2 separate regions of the Homo sapiens genome follow, and region 2 is linked to region 1. The links come from fine-mapping of genetic effects on gene expression. Tissue or cell type: whole blood. Region 1 holds a variant in brackets; the other region holds the start of a gene. All regions are shown on one strand. Distances are from middle to middle.

Region 1 (2,754 bases):
TCTCATCTTCTACCCATTCATCTGCACCACCCTGTCATCCTTTTCTGCTGTAGCAGTGGAGATGCGATACTTCCACCTGTGCTTTGGTTCCCATTTCGATCCTTTTTCTCAGATTATTGAGAGCCAGTCTGAGAGGGGTAAATTGATTATTACCCCTTTGTTGCACAGTCAACCTCTCAACTCAACTGCATCATTCCCAACAGCCTTTCAGTGGACTCAAGACTCTTCCCACAGAAGCAAACCAGCAAAAACACAAACAAAACAAAACCAAACCTCCACTTCCCTTCTCTTTGCAATATGTATCATTTTATTTATCTCCTTTATTTATTTTTCCAAATACCCTCCCTCCTCAAAAGAAAAAAAAAGCTGTCTGTTGTCACTTGTCAGTACACTCCAAGATAGCTTTTGGCAGAATTACTTGACTAACTGTTGCTGGTGTTGCCGGTGACTTCATGAAACTCAATGAACATTTTTTAGTCCCTGTGTTCTCTTAATTTTGAATGCTGGTGACTGCTCCATCCTTTCTGAAACCCCCTCTTCCCTTACTTTCTAAGACAATGCTCTCCTGTTTCAATTCCTGTTTCTGTAGCTGCCCCTTCTCTAGTGCTTGTGTGGGATTACCTTCTCCTATTCATCCCTTTGACGTTGGAGCTCCTCGGGGCTTGGTCCTAAGATTTCCCTTCTCACTCTGATTTTCTCTTTTTTGGTGACCTTACCCAAGTCCTTGTTTCAACTACCATCTCAATGCATATGACTCACCAACTGACTTCTGTAGCCCAGAATTGTGTACATATTGACCCATTTGACATTTCTTCTTGATGTCTCCAAGGTACTTCAAACTCAATATGTTCAAAACTGAACTCATTATTTTCACCCCAAACCTGTTTTTTTTTTCTTGTGTTCTCTAGTGTATTTGTTTCCTAGGGCTTACTGTAACAAATAACCACAAACTCAGTGGCTTAAAACAACAGAAATATATTCTCTCACAGTTCTAGAGACAGGAAGTCTGAAACCAAGTTTCAAGAGTTGGCCTCCTTCCAAAGGCCAGACTGAAGGGAGGATCCTTCCTTTGTTCTTCCAACTTCTGGTGGCTCCACTGGTTCTTGTCTGGCAGCCACATAACTTCAATCTGTTTCTCCATCTTCATGTGGCTTTCTCTTCTCCTCTTGTGTTTCAAATCTCCCTCTGCGTTTCTCTTAGAAGGACTCAGAATAACCCAGGATGATCTCACCTCAAAA[T/C]CCTTAATTACATCTGCAAAGACCCCTTTTTAAAAATAAGGCCACACTCACAGGTTCTGGGTGGACATGTCTCTTGGGAGGCCACCGTTCAACCCAGCTCCATGAATGGCACCTTTATCCCGTTGTTCAGGCCACAGGAACCTCATAACTGTGTTTGTGCTATCTTTTCACTTGTTTCCAGTATCCAAAGCATCCGCAAGTTATTTTAATTCCTCAGCATCTCAGGTATCTGTCCACTTCTCCCTCTTTACCACTACCTTGCTCAAGCTATCATCACCTATCACCTAGAGTCTGTAACAGCCTCCTGTCTATCCACAGCCACTCCTGCATCCTACTGTGCATTCTGCGCACTGTAGACTTGTTTCAAAATGCAAATCTGATCATGCTGCCCCACTCTGCCTTATCTCCACGTGTTCATTGTTCTTAGGAAACAGACAAGTGTAACACAGTCTATATTAAAATCAAAATGAAATGAGGATAAGCTGCAAACTGTGAAGCTTTTGGGATGGTAATACATACCAGGCAGGGACATACTTGGTAAAATAAGAAGAATACCTACAAGAATGGATGACTTTGAACTTGACCTGCAACAATTTAATATAATGACCTTCCTAGGTCCCTTCTCTACTCTATAGAAAACAAAGCCACTGGGAATTGATGCTAAAAAGCATCTGTCTCCCTTCAACACTCATCATGCAGTGAATTTTGAGACGGCTGGGATCCCCTCAGAGTATTTCTGCCAGCAGCATTTAAACTTGTCAAGCCTTCTTTCTCCATCCTCATCTTTTCTTATAACTCTTCTGCTGTGGTACCTGAATGTGAGCTGTCCAATTGGTTTCAAAATGAACGGACTCCAAGTTACCTACTTTTATATTACTGTCACTACAAAGCAGTCCTCTCCAATTTATGTTCTAAAAATAGCTAAGTGGAGACCTTATAGGTCTGATGAAAGCAAATCTGTAGCATAAAAAAATAAGGTGTTCACCAGTCAATCATAAACCACCCTCTGGGCACCTATAATGTATTCAGCACTGCGCCAGTTGCACTCCCCTTTAGCAAGTGTTTTGGCCACAAAACAGGGAGATGGAGTGCAAAGTGATTTTCACGAGTAAAATATTCCCTCCATAATTTCTGTTCTTAGGATAGGCTTGATTCTGTTGCCATAATGAACAGCCCTAAAACCTTGGCAGCTTAAAACAATAAAGGGTTATTTCCACTCTTGCTACTTATCCAGCAGGTTGGCTGGGACTTTCCATCATGCTGTCTTCCCTCCTAGACCAGCTGATGAAGCAGCCACTGTTGGGACATGCCTGGTCACTATGGCGGAGAGGGAAATGGCTCTTGAAGGGCTTGCACCAGTAATTAAATGCCCTGGCCAGGAAGTGAGATGTGTCTCTTTGTCTGTCAGCTCACTGGCTAGAATATGGCCCCACTTAACCATAAGAGGCCCAGAAAATGCATTCTATGATCTTCTCAGACAGAGAGAGCACTGGAAATATTTGCAAACAGCACTAAA
Region 2 (2,617 bases), 160 kb after region 1:
GCCACCTCAACACCAGTCCTCATGCCAGGCTGATCTCGAAACGTAACAGCTACTGCTCAGCAAAACGTGGTGGCTAGTGCCTGTAATCCCAACACCTTGGGAGGCCAAGACGAGAGCATGGCTTGAGTCCAGGAGTTCAAGACCAGCCTAGGCAACCTGCTAGACTCCATCTCTACAAAAAAAAAAAAAAAAAATTAAAAATTAGCCGTGCATAGTGGCATGCGCCTGTAGTCCCAGCTACTACAGAGGCTGAGGTGAAAGGATTGCTTGAGTCCAGGAGTTTGAGGCTGCAATGAGCTATGATGGCATCACTGCACTCCAGACTAGCCAACAGAGCCAGACCCTGTCTCAAAAAGAAAAAAACGAAAAGAAAGAAAAGAAAAAAAATATCCACTGCTCTACTCTTCGGCCAGTGGGAAGAGTGCATTTTTTAATCAAAATAGGGGCCTCTATCCATGAAACCCATCAACTTGTAAAATCTGAGCTCTCTGCAGCCTCACAGTCCCTCCAGCACTGCCAGCAGCCCTCGTTCCCTGCATGCTCTAAATCCTCAGCGAAGACCCGTCCCTTGCTCCCTCGCCCAGCACAGGCCGCGAGTGCCCACGTCCCCTGCACCTCGTGGGGCAGCCAAGGGGGCACCGCGTGGCTCGTGTGCTCCTGGGCAGTCCATTTTCAACCACAAGACGGAACAGACTCAGAATCCGGAACATCTCTCGGTGCTTAAGAGTTTTCCTTTAACAATCTTTACCTGTGGGAATGCAGAGACCCCCCCGCCCTGCGAGAGGCCGGCAGCCAGGGATTCCCCGCTCCGCGCCCTCATCACCCCCCGGAAACCACAACCGCTGCGCGCGCGGCTCGGACCCCCACCCGCCGCTCCCCTCCAGCAGACCCTAGGCCTCCGGGAAACCGCGCGGCGACCGCCCCGCGCCCCGCCAGATCCGAACCGCCGGACCCGGCACCCCGGCCACACCCGCCGGTGTCGACGCAGCGAGGCTCGGAGGGTGCATTCTCCGCGCCGACCGCTCCCCTCCTCCAGACCCGAGGGGCGGAGTGGGCAGGGCGCGCCGGCTGCGCACCGGGCACCCACCTGGGGACGCGGGGGCTGGGGCGGCGCGGGGCCACCTGGCGGACCCGGGAGCGGACTCCGGAGAGCAGGGAGCCCCTCCCCCCTCACTCTCCGGGCCCCGCCCGGCCGCCGCGCCCCGAGGCGCAGCCATCCCGCGGGAGGGGAGGCGCAGGAGGAGGCCAGCGCGAGGACACTTACTTAAAAGGCTACATCGCTTCATTCCCAGCCCATCCTGGGCGACGGCGGCACCTCCCTCGTCCGCTGCTGGGACCTCGATGCCCACCACCCTCGCGCGGCGATCTGGCCCTATAGCCCACCCCTTACTCCGCCGTGGGGCGGAGCCGCGCCACAGCTGACCCAATGAGAAACCGTCGTTTCCCAGAGTGACGTGTACGCAGAGCAATCATGGAGTCCAGCCCAGCCGGGGGCGGGGCTCAGGCGGCTCCCTACGCTTCCTACTCCAGCTGGCCCCGCCCCACGCCCGCAACTGCGCGTGCCCAGAACGTGAGGGGCGGGGCTGGGAGCCGGGCTGACACTAGAGGTGGGGTTAGCGCTTGGAAGCACCGACCAACGTGAGCGCAACGCGGCAGGGACACCTGACCCCGGCGGCGCCCAGCCCCTCGGATTGCCAGTCACTGCTCGCTTTGGGGCACGGAGGTGCCCAGTCCTGCGGGGCACCCGACGTCCTGTCGCCGACAGGGTCCGGGAGTCAGTATAGCTGGGTTCTAGTCCCATCACAGGCAAAAACTCCGCGGGAGCCTGGCCCGCTTTTTACCTGGGCCTCAGTTTCCCCATCCGTAAAATAGAACGGGTTGGATCTCCCGAGCGCTAACATTCCAGAACTCGGATGGGGCGAAGGGGAGGGAGGGATGGGCCACCCACACGTGACCTCCCCGCGTGGAGCCCCGCCTACCACTGATCCAGGGGGTGGCAGCTCCGGCCGGGACGAGCGGGGTGGGCGGGTCCTAGGAAACCCTACCCGGCCGCCCTTGGCAGCGCCTAAGGCGGAGCGCGCGGCTCTGCAGCCTGCTTGCCCCGGAGTTGGCACCCACGGAGGATGGGGACCGCACCCTCAGCTTCGCAGGGAGCCACCGTGGAGGCCAGGGCGGTGCAGAGACACGACGTGTGACTCGGAGTGCGCCTGGGGAGGATGGACGAGGGAGCGGGGGACCGCTAACGGGGCTCCCTCTGCGCGCCCCGTCCGCAGAGGCGCACGTCGAGGGTCCCGGGCGGGCTCCGTGGACGTTGGCGGTAGCGCCGAGCGAGTCACGGACCATGAAGAGCGTTCGTGCCGCGCGGCCCAAGGCCGGGATGGGGGTTAGCCACATCCTGCCGCGCTGAGGGGGAGGCTAACGGGCGCGGGCGGCCGGGCCCAGCCGGAGCCCACCGCGATGGCGAGGGAGGAGTGCAAGGCGCTGCTGGACGGGCTCAACAAGACGACTGCGTGCTACCACCACCTGGTGCTGACCGTCGGTGGCTCGGCGGACTCGCAGAACCTGCGGCAGGAGCTGCAAAAGACGCGCCAGAAGGCGCAGGAGCTGGCGGTGTCCA

Evidence for each region. PIP is the estimated chance that this variant, and not a neighbour inherited with it, causes the effect.
Region 2: it holds the start of ANKRD27, and the variant in region 1 is fine-mapped to the expression of ANKRD27 in whole blood (TOPMed, PIP above 0.99).

What each region holds. Positions count from the first base shown.
Region 1 is chr19:32,518,211-32,520,964 of GRCh38, forward strand. No RefSeq gene overlaps it. Among named protein-coding and RNA genes, the nearest start is that of PDCD5, 62 kb to the right of the region's middle. The variant T/C (reference allele first, on the strand shown) is at 1,239.
Region 2 is chr19:32,673,807-32,676,423 of GRCh38, forward strand. ANKRD27 (ankyrin repeat domain 27) reads right to left here and starts at 1,374. Exons shown (of 29, transcript NM_032139.3): 1 at 1,265-1,374. It overlaps RGS9BP (regulator of G protein signaling 9 binding protein), which reads left to right and starts at 2,042. Exons shown (of 1, transcript NM_207391.3): 1 at 2,042-2,617. The coding sequence starts at 2,458. RefSeq lists silencers at 859-908, 929-1,658, 2,229-2,288 and enhancers at 1,302-1,921, 1,809-1,918.